Linked DNA regions of Homo sapiens: region 2 is reported to be linked to region 1. Evidence: microRNA targets listed by miRTarBase, many of them from high-throughput screens and not tested one by one. Region 1 holds a microRNA gene; the other region holds the end of a gene's coding sequence.

Region 1 (3,403 bases):
TGAGAGACAGAGGTTGGAGTCAGCCGGGATCGTGCCATGGCCCTCCAGACTTGGCAACAGCAAGACTCCACCTAAAAAATAAATAAATGAATGAATAAAAAAGAAAAATACAAATATTAGCTGGGCATGATGTCAGGTGCCTGTAATCCCAGGAAGCTGAGGCAGGAGAATCACTTGAACCCAGGAGGTGGAGGGTGCAGTGAGCTGAGATTGCACCACTGCACTCCAGCCTGAGTCACAGAGCAAGACTCTGTCCCAAAAAGGACCATTTGAGCCCAAGAGACCTAGGTTGGAAGTGCCTCTGTACTCCAGCCTGGGCCACAGAGACCCTGTCTTAGAAAACAAAAAAAACCCAGAACCCCAACATCATCCAAGTCTGATGATAAGCATGCAAATATATTACCAACATCAGCATCAACTTCAACACTGCTTTTCCCAAACAGTAACTCTAAAGGGAAGCACTTTGTTTTTTCTCAGACAACAAACAGAAAGTGCTTCCTCTAGAGGGTCACAGCATGGGATCTTCTTGCTCCAGCACTCTGGGTTTCTTGTTGGAATTTTCCTTGACCAGGTTAAAATACACACAAAATAAAGATGCATTTATTGGCCCTGTTTGCATATTTTCTGGAATCCAGAACATAAACCCCTAAAAGGACCATCTCCAGTTCCTTGCTTCAAAGGCTCAGCAGGTTAGCCTTGTTCACCAAGGGGCAACCCTCCTGAGTTTTGTCCCCAAAGAGAAAAAGCAAAGCCTACTACACATACCTTATATTTAACCAAGAGATTAGGGCAGAATTTCCAGAGAACAGCAATGGATTTTGAGCCAAGTGTTCAGCTGAGTTCCAGGACAGGGGCACACAGTCCCGATGGAAGCATCCAAAATGGAATCTACAATGTTGAAGAATATACATTGTCTCACACACAAACATCCTCCAAGATAGACCACAGTCTAGGCTGACTCTACAGGACCATTTGAGATTAGGGGTGATGGCTCACAGCTGTAATCCCAGTACTTTGGGAGGCCAAGGCTGGTGGATCACCTGAGGTCAGGAGTTTGAGACCAGCCTGCCCAACATGGTGAAACCCCATCTCTACTGAAAACACAAAAATTAGCTGGGTGGGGTGGTAGGCACCTGTAATTCCAGCTATCTGGGAGGCTGAGGCAGGAGAATCACTTGAACCCGGGAGGCCGAGGTTGCGGTGAGCCGAGATCGCGCTATTGCCCTCCAGCCTGGGCAACAAGAGCGAAACTCCGCCTCAAAAAAAAAAAACAAAAAAACAATAATAATTAGCAAGACCTGATGGCAGGCAACTGAATTCCCAATGATTCGGCAGGCTGAGGTGGTAGAAACACTGGAACCTGAGAGGTGGAGTTTCCGGTCAACAGAGATTCTGCTACTGCACTCCCAGTGAAACCAGAGTGGGTCTCAAAAAATCAAAAAATAAAAAGAGGACCACTTGAGCCCAAGAGATCTCGGTTGGAGGTGCCACCCACTCTAGTCTGGGCAACAGAGACACTGTCTTGGAAAAAAAAAACAAAACAAACAGAACCCCAACATCATGCACGTCTGATGATAAGCACGCTCTGCAAATGTGTTACCAAGATCAGCAGCATCTTCAACGTTGATTTTCTCAAACAGTAACACTCTAAAAGGATGCACGATCTTTTCTTAGACAACAGACAGTGCTTCCATCTAGAGGGTCACTGCCTGAGATCTTCTTGCTCCAGTACTCTGGGTTATTTTTTATGTATTTATGTATTTATTTATTTATGTATTTATTTTTTGAGATGGAGTCGCCCAGGCTGCAGTGCAATGGTGTGATTTTAGCTCACTGCAATCTCCTTCTCACGGGTTCAAGAGATTCTCCTGCTGCCGCCTCCCACGTAGCTGAGACTACAGGTGTGTACCACCACGCCTAGCTATATTTTGCATTTTTAGTAGAGAGGAGGTTTTGTCTTGATGGCGGGGCTGCTCTTGAACTCTGACCTGAGGTGATCCACCCGTCTCGACCTCCCAAAGTGCTGGGATTACAAGCGTGTGCCACCGCACCCGGCCTATTTTTTATTTTTTTGAGATTGAGTCTCACTGTTGCCTAGGCTGGAGTTCAGTGGTGCGATCTCAGCTCACTGAGAGCTCAGCTTCCCGGCTTCCTGTGATTCTCCTGCCTCAGCCTCCTGAGTAGCTGGGATTACAGGCGTGTACCACCACCACACTGGGCTAAGTTTTGTATTTTTAGTAGAGATGGGGATTCACCATGTTGGCCAGGCTGGTCTCAAACAACTGACCTCAGGTGATCCTCCTGTCTTGGCCTCCCAAAATGATGGAATCACAGGTGTGAGCCGTGGTACCCAGCCTTGTCCTATACTTAAAATTAGGAACAAAAAAAGATGCCCACACCTAAACAGCAAATCATTTGTTGTTCAAGTACATCTCAAATACATTGTTTATCTGAAATAGAAATTTAAGTGGGGGTGGGGCATGAATCAAAGAACAGTCCTTACTTTCCTCTTCCTGTACATGAGTTAATATTCACATGTAGTCCCAGCTACTAAGGACTGGGGAGGGCCAGAGGCAGGAGGATCTAAGCCCACTTTAGCTTGGGCGGCATAGTGAGACGCCCGTCTCGTTGCATATACGACCTGGTCATGCACCCAAGATTTCAGCTTCATTTCCCCAATGAAAACTCAAACCCCATGCACTCCACCTCCATGCTCTTGCTGAGCAGTACACATCCCATCTGCAAGGGACATTGGGGTCCCCTTCACCTCTACCTGACCCCAAGTGAAGTTCCATAAACCAGTGCCAGAATAATTTCTGTGGGGTAAAAGGTGTTGATGGCCAGGCGCGGTGGCTCACGCCTGTATTCTCAGCACTTTGGGAGGCCGAGGCAGGCAGATCACCTAAGGTCAGGAGCTGAGTTCAGCCTGGCCAACATGGTGAAACCCCATCTCTGCTAAACATTCAAAAATTAGGCCAGGCGTGGGGGCGCATACCTGCAATCCCAGAAAGAGTCAGAGGTGGGCGGATGACTTGAGGTCAGGAGTTTGAGACCAGTCTAACCAACATGGTGAAATCCCATTTCTACTAAAAAAAAAATACAAAAAGTAGCCAGGTGCGGTGGTGTGCTCCTGTAATTCCAGCTAGTCAGGAGGCTGAGGAAGAATTGCTTGAACCCAGGAGGCAGAGATTGCAGTGAGCCGAGATCGTGTCACTGCCCTCCAGCATGGGTGACAGCGAGACTCCGTCTCATAAATAAATAAATGAATTTTTAAAAATACAAATATTATCCAGGTGTGGTGATGGGTGCCTGTAATCTCAGCTACTTGGGAAGCTGAAGCAGGAGAATCGCTTGAACCCAGGAGGCGGGGGTTGCGGCGAGCCGAGATCACATCACTGCACTC
Region 2 (3,403 bases), not on the chromosome of region 1:
CTACTCAGGAGGCTGAGGTGGGAAGATTGCTTGAGCCCAGGAGTTTGAGGCTGCAGTGAACTATTACTATGCCACTGCACTCCAGCCTGGGCAACCGAGCAAGACCTAATCTCTATAAAAATGAAAAAGACCCTTCCTTCCAACAACGTTAAACCACTAGAGATGTTTCGTACTCCCTACAATTTTTTCTCTCTTTCTGTTCACAATACATTGGGACTTACAGGCAGAGTAAGAGTCAATGGAAGCTATGGTAAGAAAGTCAACAGAGGGCTGGAGGAACAATACCAACAGCTAGGATTCTCTACTCCCAGATTTGCTAACAAGCATTGATTTGCTCCACTGATATACAACACAATCTGAGGGAAGATCATTGAAAATCTAGGATCTTTTGGTCTAAAGTTGGAATCATGGGGAGGCATTTTCTCAACCTTGTTCATGTCTCTTTCCTTTGCAGGGCAACAGGCTTTGGCTTCTTAAATGCGCTATGCAAGGCAGCAGCCGTCCTGGGAAACTTAATATTTGGCTCTCTGGTCAGCATCACCAAATCAATCCCCATCCTGCTGGCTTCTACTGTGCTCGTGTGTGGAGGACTCGTTGGGCTGTGCCTGCCTGACACACGAACCCAGGTTCTGATGTAATGGGAAAAAAAGCCATCCTTCCTGCGTTTCTTCCTCCTGCCCTGGGTCAATTCTCCTTCCTGACTCAAGGCTTCAGAGTTTTCCTATATAGAAAGGTGATCAAGTATCAGAACATAAACACGTGCTGTGACTTAAAATTTAGAAGCATATCATCTTGCCCCTTTGTGATTTTGCACAGGTTGTTTGTTTGTTTTGTTTTGTTTGAATGCATTGTTATCTTTCCAAACTGTGATGCTACTGCCTCCCGCAAATCAGTGGAAGCATTTCTAAAATGCCCTAGGCAGCCAGGCTTCCCTGGGGTTCTGCTCATTGAAAGTTTAGAAGCTAAGAAGACTGGGCTGGTGTAAGAAATAGATCCTGCTCCTAATTTAACATTAACAGGAAATATAAGTCGGCACATTATTGCATTTGTGCTGAGAAGAGGGATTCTTTTTTTTTTTTTTTCTAACAGAGTGATATTTCCTGTTTACTTAGAAAAGGACACCCAGTAATTCTCACTGTTATAGCAGAGCCTTTCAAAGAAAACCATGTGGCACCAAACAGGGCTGGGTGGGGCTCTTTGGGGCAAGACAATTAAGGTGACCGCTGACAAGAAAAATAAAAGCTCTGCAATTAGCAGCAAAAATCTGAGTGTGCTGCATAAGCAAGATTTCTGTCAGAAAGCCCAATTAAACCTCTGAAAAGTGTGAGGAAAAAGAACTGTAACAGTATCTGTGACTGTGGCATGTGGTTCAGAATGTTTGAAAATCAGAGATCCGAGAGAGAGCTTCTGCCTCCATTTACCACTCCCACTCCTTCAGCTGCCCTTGGTCTTGCCAGACAGCAGATTCAGGGAAAGAAAGCTGCTTCTTAAAAACTGTCTGCCTACCTGATTCTGCCACTTACCCACACTGTCTCTAGTCTAGAGATTGCCAGTGGATAGCTAAATTGTAAATTGCAAATTAGGAAGAAATTCACACCCAGAGCCATTTGGAAATACAAAATGGTACCTCTTTCCAGTACCTCTTTGCTGTGGGACTGGCCCGCCAGGACCCCCACCCCACCTGGCCCGCAGTTGACATTCAGCTTCCCAGCTGGCATCAGCAAAGAGGGTTTGTCCCTCTAGCTTCCCCAGGGCTGGCCCACTGCTCAATGCGCTCCTGGCTCCCTGTAAAATCACAGCCCGCCTGCACTCCTGAGGGCCCCTCTCACAGACAGACCATCTCCCTGTGGTTGTTTGACTGCTCATTTTACCTCTGGAATCTGCCTGGGCTTGGAAGAAAGAGGTCAGCCAGGACATTCCCACGGGCCCGCTGTCAGCTACATGACCTTCTCGCCTCTCAGGCTCCCCTTCCCCCAGGCTCGTCCTTTTTACACCTCTTCTTTGAAATCTGAACCTTCCTTGTAGACTTGCAGCCAATGACCAGAAGCCAGGAATAAATCCCATATTTAAACAATATTCCTTTTTTAACTGCCTCGATAGAGGTTTATTCTTGTTACTTATTATAGGCATTTTCAGGCAAGCCATAGCTTGGGGCCTCCAGGAAGGGAAAGCTTTTGTTTCCACTGATCATTATTTTCAGAGATGTCCTAACTCCCCTGAGGCCCCCCTGCCTCCCCCTCCCCTTCCTAATGATCCCTCGCAGAGCTCAGACTAAGTGAAAAGCTTCTTTCATTAACATAAGCCATTAATCGACTTCCCCTTGAAGTAATTCAGGTCTGCAGAGGGGGGAAGACTGGTGTTGGGGGCAGTGGGAAGAGGGTGGTTCCCTGGGGGTCTGTGATCAGGGCTAGAACATCAGGAAAACCCGAACCAAAAACTGCAAAGGTGGCAGGAAGAAGAAAAATCACTGAAGGCTAGACAAGATGCATTTGAAAGATACCAACCGCACAGGGAAAGAAACAACTTTCTCTCACTTCTGCCTCCTATCATTTTATTGGAGAACAAAGACAGCAGTCAAACAACCCAAGAAAGTACCCTGTATGTTTTTCTTCTTCCACATGTACCCATTTTCCCACCTATCTCTCCCTGATTTGTCTTCTTTAAAAAGACATTTGGGGACCTGAGCAGGTCTTTTAGTTGAATGCAGCATGTGCAGAAATAACTGCAAAAGCCAGGAGTGCATCTCCATCAACCCATCAAAAGAAAAATAGAAATGTACATGGGCATCGCTGTCTCTAGTCCTCTGTGATAGTTCACTTTGCTAACTAGACTACCTTTACTTTTCAAAATATCTCTAATGTCTGCTCTGGGGTCTAAATGCATAAAACATCTCCCAAGCTGCAGAGCACAGTTATTCAGAATTTTATTTGAACACTGGGTTGGGTCAGCATAGGATAAACCAGCAAAACCTTACTTCATGAGACCTGCCATCCGTGTCCCCTGCAGAAGGACCGTTCTTGGCCTACTTGTTACCTAATCCAAGCATCCTTGGTGGCCTAAGAGGGATCTTTTCTCATCTCCTGGACAGTCTGTGGTCACAAACCTTCTTGGTCACCACCTCTCCCACCTTTTGTGCACTCTTCCCTGCCTCCTTGAGACTGTTCATCACCTTGATTTTCTAAGAGAGCTCAAATCATTTCCAAAGCATGTGGTGTGGCCTGTATAGCTTGCTCCAGATTTAGCTGGAGATTAAGAAACAGCCAGGATATTAAACAGAAACTCTCAGTTGTATCAGTGTAGCAGGCCACTGGCACCTAAACACGCAACTGGCATCTCATTTCGCCTACAGTAGAAGGAAAATGAAAATTTGTACAAAAATGAAAACCTAGGAAATAGTCCACTT

Evidence for each region. The annotated mature microRNA hsa-miR-517-5p reads CCUCUAGAUGGAAGCACUGUCU and lies in region 1 at 1,680-1,701, opposite strand. An mRNA with a match to its seed (bases 2 to 7 or 8) in the 3' UTR can be bound and repressed. Matches are read on the target gene's strand: a 7mer-m8 pairs with bases 2 to 8, a 7mer-A1 pairs with bases 2 to 7 and ends in A, and an 8mer does both.
Region 2: miRTarBase lists SV2C as a target of hsa-miR-517-5p. Seed matches in the 3' UTR shown: 8mer at 1,539-1,546.

Annotation. Positions count from the first base shown.
Region 1 is chr19:53,739,630-53,743,032 of GRCh38, reverse strand. MIR517C (microRNA 517c) reads right to left here and starts at 1,720; the gene lies at 1,626-1,720. It overlaps MIR520H (microRNA 520h), which reads right to left and starts at 521; the gene lies at 434-521. LOC124904765 (a long non-coding RNA gene) reads right to left here. Exons shown (of 6, transcript XR_007067334.1): 2 at 766-888.
Region 2 is chr5:76,324,910-76,328,312 of GRCh38, forward strand. SV2C (synaptic vesicle glycoprotein 2C) reads left to right here. Exons shown (of 13, transcript NM_014979.4): 13 at 455-3,403. The coding sequence ends at 638. Among named protein-coding and RNA genes, the nearest start is that of SV2C-AS2, 15 kb to the left of the region's middle. RefSeq lists an enhancer at 523-1,022.